Homo sapiens: one gene and its partner. The protein of the gene in region 1 interacts with the protein of each later gene in a pairwise test. Each region holds a gene or a part of one and is shown on either strand. Other genes may lie near its edges.

Region 1 (3,833 bases):
TCTTACACTCGCAAAAGGGGTAGAAAATATTGTAGGCTCTGTGGAATATGTTGGTTCTGCAGCACTTGATTTGAGACTTGGGTAGGGGTGAGGGAACCAGGTTATTTTTGTGGCCTTGTAACTAGAAAGGTCCATGCAGGCAGACACCTACCTTCATCTGCTACATGTGTGTGGCTGGAGCTGGGAATTTGTTTCTGCTTTTTAAAGCTCTGAGTTTTTGCTTTCTGCATGATAATCAGCTTCAACCTAGCAGTGATACTAAATATACTAAGGGGTTTGACTCTTTTACAGATTGCTGGTACTTGTCTTGCATTATGTTTATCAAGTGATTTGAAATCATTATCAGTGGTCACAGAAGTCTCTACCAATGGTGCTTCAGAAGTTTCATACTTTCAGGTGAGTATTGGAACTTGATAACGGTAGAGAGTAAATATGTATTTAACAGGTTTTATATAGGTTTTTATCCACATCTCACTGTATTGTAATGATCATTAAAATAATGCAAAAAAATCGACTTGGAATTTCTACATCCTAATATACTGAGTGTTATTATAGTGAATACCATATTATTCTTCCCATGCTCCAATACAGTTTTCATAAAAAGTGTTTTGGTGGTCTATTAATGACCATATTAATTTGTTGCTATTCCAGTTTGACTTTGTACCAAGTGTTTGCTTAGGACTCTGTCCCTGATAATAACAAAGGTTAATATTTATTGATTGTTTAATATGTGCCATATGCTGAATGCTTCAGAACAGTTGATTTGAATCTTCACAGCATCATAATAGGCAGATACTGTTATTATCCCCATTTTATAGGTAAGTACATGGACACACAAATACTTCAGAACTTGCTTGATGTCACAGGATGGGAAAGTGATGCTAGACAATCTGGCTGCATAATCTGTGCTCTTAACTAGCACATTGCATCTTGTGTAAAATGATCACTTAATATTGGGAAAATGCTTTATTGCGTGCTGTCTGCATTGTAGATTAAGGAAGCTAACTGGGCTCCCATAGAGTATTTAGATCATAGCCTTGCCAAGAAATCGAAAATTTTCATCTTAAATATCCCAGCCACTTAAGTATGTGTGAACTCTCAAACAAAAGTAGAACAAAAAAGATGCAAGATGCAATGTGTGTGATGTCTTCCAACATTCTCTTTGTATTCAGAGCATCAGAGAACTCTTGGTTTACTGTTCACTATGGTAATGGTTGTTCATATTTGCTCATCTTCTTAAGGTTATGTGAAACTATGATCACCAGGATTGCATTTGGATTATAATAAAATGATTCACTACTACTGTGAAGTTGGTAACAGATCATTTTTAATGACAAATTTATTAAGATACAATTCATATACCATTGATAGATATTTTCCCAATATTTATCAGTAGCCTTTAATTCCTTATACTTCCTTTAAGTTTTTACATATATTTGTGATTTAAACATTTCTTTGTAATACTGTTTCAAAATAGGTTATATTACATTTATTCTATCTACACAGGAGGGGTTGATAACCCAGAGAGAGTGATTTGTGTATGGTTATGTGTAGGTTAGGAGATCCTAAGGCTATGTGCTGTTTCCAAACCGTTCTGCTCAAAGAGGGCACAATTCTGACATAGTCTTTCTGATACGTAGTTTGACCCACACTCTAAATTACAGACTTTGCAGCAAGTGCATCTGATGATGACTCACTTTACTCTTTTGATTTTACAGCTTGAAACTAATCTGTTGTACTCTTTCTTACCTGAAGTAACTCGGATGGCCAGAAAGTTTACTCATATTTCAGCTCTGTTACAGGTATTTATTTAGAGCTTGTTTTATGTGAATATTTATTATCGGCTTCTAAAGTTCTGTAAATAAAAAGCTTCAAAATTTTGTTTTGTAAAGCTTTCTGAAGTAGAGGTATCTAGTCTGATAGATGATCTTATAAGGTCCATTAAAGCAGGAAAAGGACATTTAATTGAGAACCTACTTTCACCGCACCCTATTTTCCACCTCCAAAAGAGTTTAAATCTTTTAAAATACTCCCATAAATAAAATACCATTTACATTATAAAGTATTGTGGGAAAAACAGTCTTCACATGAGTTTACATTTGTTCATAATAAACCCACCCCAAATTACCTCCCAATTCTGTAGGTTGGTGATTTAGGCTCAGCTTAGCCAAGATGTTTGGGTGACCTGGAGAAGGTTCAGCTGATCTTGACTAGACTTGGTCATGCCAGCTGGTATGTGTCCCTTGGCTGTGATTCCTTGTCTCTACTCCACATCCTTCATACTCCAGCGAGCCAGCACAGGCTTGTCCACATGGTGGTGGTAACGGGGCATCGAGGGTGCAAGTGGAAGTGTACAAAGACTTTTGAGGCCCTGGAGTCAACAGTGTTATTTCTGCTGCATTCCGTTAGTCAAAGCGAGACTCAAGGGCTGAAGAAATGGACTCTGCATCTGACTGGAGGGGCTACAAAAGATTGTGGCCATGTTTTTCATTCTACCACAGTCATTAATTTATTTGATATTAAAGGTTTCTAGAGATCAGTATCTTTTTAAAATTGAATAATTGACCAAACCAGTATTTTGACAGTTAGTGTAGATAAGACATATCTTATATAAAAAGCTTGGAGATATTTGTTTCACCAGATAAAAATTTAAGAATGTTTTATTATGAAATTCTAAGAATCAATGGAATGTTTCGTAGTTAAGTGATGACCAAGCTGTTGTCTTTTTCTCCATCTTAACTGAGTTAAAAGAGTGATTGAGGCTGGGCACAGTGGCGCACACCTATAATCCCAGCACTTTGGGAGGCTGAGGCAGGTGGATCACTTGAGGCTTGGAGTTCGAGACCAGCCTGGCCAACATGGTAAAGCCCCGTCTCTACTAAAAATACAAAAATTAGCTGGGCATGGTGACGCACGCATATAATACCAGCTACTTGGGAGGCTGAGGCAGGAGAATCGCTTGAACCTGGGAGGCAGAGGTTGCAGTGAGCCAAGATGGCGTCACTGCACTCCAGCCTGGACGACAGAGCAAGACTCTGTCTCGATAAATAAATAATAAAAATAAAACAGTGATTGAAAGTAAATTCTAGATTTCTTTGAGACACTTGATCATAAGCACATATTATTTAGATAGCAAGTTGGTTTAAATATTTTTTACCATTTCAATTTTTCTTTTTTGCTAATAGTATATAAATTTGTCACTAACATGTATGTGTGAAGCATGGGAAGAAATACTAATGCAGATGGATTCTCGTCTCACCAAGTTTGTGCAGGTAAAGCAGCTGAAGTTTCCCATGGAGAGAGTTAAAGAATGCATGATGTATGTCTTTACCTTGAGGTACATGAGAAAAATCAGTTTGATTCATAAAAGGCTAAGATCATAATTTCTTTCAAATGGCTTCGTCTGACTTCAAACTGCTTCCTCAGATTTGCCAAAAGGGCTCTTTTCCCATTGATACAACTTAAGTGGGGACAGGATTGTGAAGTGGAGCTGGTGGGGCTTTGGCAATAAGGGCAGGTGTTAGAACAGCTGATTGGCTATCTTCTAGTCACTGATGTTCAGATGATCACTTTATGGATTTGATGGAAGTCTAAGGCAAGGAAAGGGAGTCATGCTCCTATAATTTTGAATAAATATGCTTATAATTTAAGAAATACATATATCACAATTTTTTTTTCACTTTTTTCCAGGAAAAGAACACAACCACATCAGTGCAAGATGAGTTCATGCACTTGCTATTATGGGGGAAAGCAAGGTAATAAACTCAGATTAGGTGCTCCTGTTTTTGCTTCTTTTTTAACAGTAATTATTTATTTGAAAAGTAGTTTATAGT
Region 2 (3,833 bases), on another chromosome or scaffold:
AGGACTAGGAAGGATTGCTGTTTTTCAGGACCCAGATCAAATTCATTGCATCCACAAAATTTCCATTATTCTTTCTTACTCTACACTCAAGAATCTATAGCTCCTTGTATTATGGAAACCTTGGCACTATATTTTTACTTTACCTTATATTATTTCATGTATTTATCTTATTTTTTTCTCATCTCCACTGTATGTCTATTCTATAAGTTTTTAGGACAGGGATTTTTGTGCCTTGTTTACTTGTATATCATGTAACACAAGGCCATAATAGGTGTTTACTAATATGGCAACTCAAATTGAGTAAGAAAGTTGAACCATCAGCAGTGTAAGACTGATTAAATTTTTGAAGCTAGAGCAAATGAAAACAGGTCATTCTTTTTATTTCAGTTTCTGTGATTGTAATAATTAGAGATTTTTATTGTTACCCTGCTTTCATTTTAAAACAAGGTTTTTCAAACAATCTCACTTGTTTATACCTTTCACATTAGGATTCTTGGTCCAAATTTGTAACATGAGCTTAGTTTTTTTTTTTTTTTTTTTTAACCTCTTGTGACTATGTGCTACTGATCTCTACATTTTGAATAATAGTGCTTACTTATCTGCCAGCAAAGCACCCTGGAATATTCTGCTACAGAATTGTAACATACACCTACAATCATAACATTCAATTTGAATAAAAATATAAAATATCCAATTTAAAATCACACACAGCTAAATTTCTCTGTGGGCCAAAAATGTATTTAGTACCTCCACTTCTGTGAGATTTCACAACTTAATATTTTTGTGTTTTATTTCTTTAATCATTGTCGCATGTACAATATGTATTAGAACTTTGAGGTATAAAAAAAATGCTTAACTAAATTAAAAACTTTTCCTCTCAAGTTCTACATCAAACAGTTCGTTAACTGCAGACGTAAATTCTGGATTTGCCAAACGTGTTCGACAAGATAATTCAAGTGAGAAGCACTTACAAGAAAACAAACCAACAATGGGTATGTCTCAGCTTTTAATTTGATATTTAATGGTATGACTCTGTAACACACATATAGTACTTTACGTTTTTTATTGTGTTTTCATAAGAATCTCCCTTTATTCATCACCTTTACTATGTGGTAGAACAAGTATGATTATCCACATATTATAGATAAGGAAACTTTAAAACACAAAAGCATTTACCCAAGATCACACAGATATTATATTGGTAGAGCCAAAACTCAAGAACCAGATCTTAAAACTCTACTTTCTACACCCTTTTAGTTATCCCTACTGTCTCATAATAATTGAAATAATTGGCTAAATGTATTACTTAATGTTACTAATTAAGTGTATTTTGCAGATAAACTATACCCACTTTAAATTTTTCTCTTAGCGTAATATTTTGAATAATTTGGCCTCTAACTCAATGTGTAACTACTACACAGATTCCAGTCTGTATCTAGTTACAATCATATTGTAACTCCCATTGGCAAGTTGGAAAAGATACTGATGGATCTTTCCCATCAGTATGAAAGATACTACATTCCATCAACCGCATATGGGAGTGACATGAGTTTATGGTAACAAAACCACTTCAGTTAAACTAGTGGTGTATCATGCCAGCCAGTTTTCAGGCCCCAACATCTAGACCTCTGTCTCTGATACTACAGTTCCTAAGACTTCATTCAGAAACTATTTATTCACTAGGCATTTACCATGTCCTGTGATGAATACAGAGAGCAGTAAGACACAGTTTGATTGTTCTCTATAGGAACTGATAATTATAGCAAATGCAATTTAAAGGTGTCTCATGATATAATTTTTCTAAGGATAACATGAAAGCTATTGTTAGTTTTTTTCTGTCGATGCCCTTTGATTAGAGTAATATAAAATTCCTCAGTAACTTTGTCAAACTATATTGGTAAATGCCTGCTTCCTGTAGTAGCCAGTGTTTACCTTAAGTTCAATGGAAATTGAAGCATCAGACAGCAAATTGAAACATCAGACAGTAAGGTAGTAAAGTACAAAATTTACCTTGATCATTTGGTTTGACATGTTGTATTTAATAATGCTTAAAAATGTGTATCTGTAGTTAGTTTAGGTGTGTACTGCCCCACTGATCTTCTTAAAAAGTTCTTCAAGAATCATAATTCTACAGCCAAATAATAAATTTATAAAAACTCTCAAATTGGCCGGGCGCCGTGGCTCACGCCTGTAATCCCAGCACTTTGGGAGGCTGAGGCGGGTGGATCACGAGGTCAGGAGATCGAGACCATCCTGGCTAACATGGTGAAACCCCGTCTCTACCAAAAAAATTTTAAAAAATTAGCCGGGCATGGTGGCAGGCGGCTGTAGTCCCAGCTACTCGGGAAGCTGAGGCAGGAGAATGGCGTGAACCTGGGAGGCGGAGCTTGCAGTGAGCCGAGATCGCACCACTGCACTCCAGCCTGGGCGACTGAGCAAAACTCCGTCTCAAAAAAAAAAAAAACTCAAATCATAGAACTTGGCTTTTTCTAATATGCTTATTATCTGAAGATACAAATTCATCAAATATTTCATGTATAAAGAGATGTGAGTAAAAATATCTACTATGGGGAAAAAAAAGTGGGAGATGATAATAAACCACAATGCTTGCCAAAGAGGTATTAGTTTGTAAGGAAAGATATTTTATATACATTATAATGTTCAAGTGAAAAATGTATTAAACCAGTTTTCTAACTAACAATGTACAAATAAAGAAACATAGGACCATCAGTAGGGAAAAAGGCAACTCCTGTTAACTTAGCAGTTAGAGAAATAACAGAGAGTGTTAAGGGAATATGTCCCTCTAAAACTAAAACCTAATATGGCCAACAAAGTGGATAAGCAATTAAACTAATCCTGAAAAAAGTCAATGGCACCCTGTTGTAACAACACTTTGTTGAGTAGAAAATGACGGTGAAAGCTAATGAAGAACCAGAAGAATGGGCATAAATAGAACATACTTGAGAGGTGGCAGTAAAAGAAAAAAGAGCTATAGGATTAAGATCAGCCCTTTAGGAAGTACTAGATGCAAATGATAATTTTAAAATTGGAAAAATATGGAAGTTTAAATCCCTGGGGAAATATAATCCAAGGAATGAGAAAAAATGGTGATACAACAAAGAAAATGAAGAAATGCTTGTAGAAATGGTCTTTTATTAGTCAGAAAGAAAGAAAATGAACATAGTATTTAATTCAGCGACTTCACCCGATGTCTGTGTATGTGCACGCACTCACTGAAACTTTAGTTTGCAATATGAATTTGAACAGCTTTTAAACCAAAGGTATTAATGTCTCTTTGTTGTTGTTATATTTTAAATTATGTTAACTAACAACTATGAATTTCAAGAGTAAATTTTTCTTTCTATGGTCATAATTTTTATAAGTTGAACGATGAAAACTTTTTGAATGATATTTATGCCATATTTATGCATCTTTTTATTTCTTCTCTAGAACATAAAAGAAACATCTGTAAAATAAATCCAAGCATGGTTAGAAAATTTGGAAGAAATATTTCAAAAGGAAATCTAAGATAAATCACTTCAAAACCAAGCAAAATGAAGTTGATCAAATCTGCTTTTCAAAGTTTATCAATACCCTTTCAAAAATATATTTAAAATCTTTGAAAGAAGACCCATCTTAAAGCTAAGTTTACCCAAGTACTTTCAGCAAGCAGAAAAATGAAACTCTTTGTTTTCTTCTTTTGTGTTCTAAAAAAATAAAATTTCAAAAGAAAAGGTTGTCTTTTAAGTTTTTTAAATATTTGTTGCCTTTTAAAATCCCTGAGTGTAAGTTACCATGGTGGCAGCTTAGTTTTACTATGCCACAACAAGTTG

The links.
Region 2: the proteins of ANAPC4 (region 1) and KIF18A interact in binary tests that used the Homo sapiens proteins (3 or more experiments, as listed by UniProt).

Annotation. Positions count from the first base shown.
Region 1 is NC_000004.12:25,390,620-25,394,452, forward strand, and holds part of ANAPC4 (anaphase-promoting complex subunit 4), read left to right. Parts: intron 1-291; coding exon 292-396; intron 397-1,718; coding exon 1,719-1,802; intron 1,803-3,185; coding exon 3,186-3,272; intron 3,273-3,690; coding exon 3,691-3,755; intron 3,756-3,833. UniProt on the Homo sapiens protein: Component of the anaphase promoting complex/cyclosome (APC/C), a cell cycle-regulated E3 ubiquitin ligase that controls progression through mitosis and the G1 phase of the cell cycle.
Region 2 is NC_000011.10:28,020,900-28,024,732, reverse strand, and holds part of KIF18A (kinesin-like protein KIF18A), read left to right. Parts: intron 1-882; coding exon 883-992; intron 993-3,450; coding exon 3,451-3,533; 3' UTR 3,534-3,833.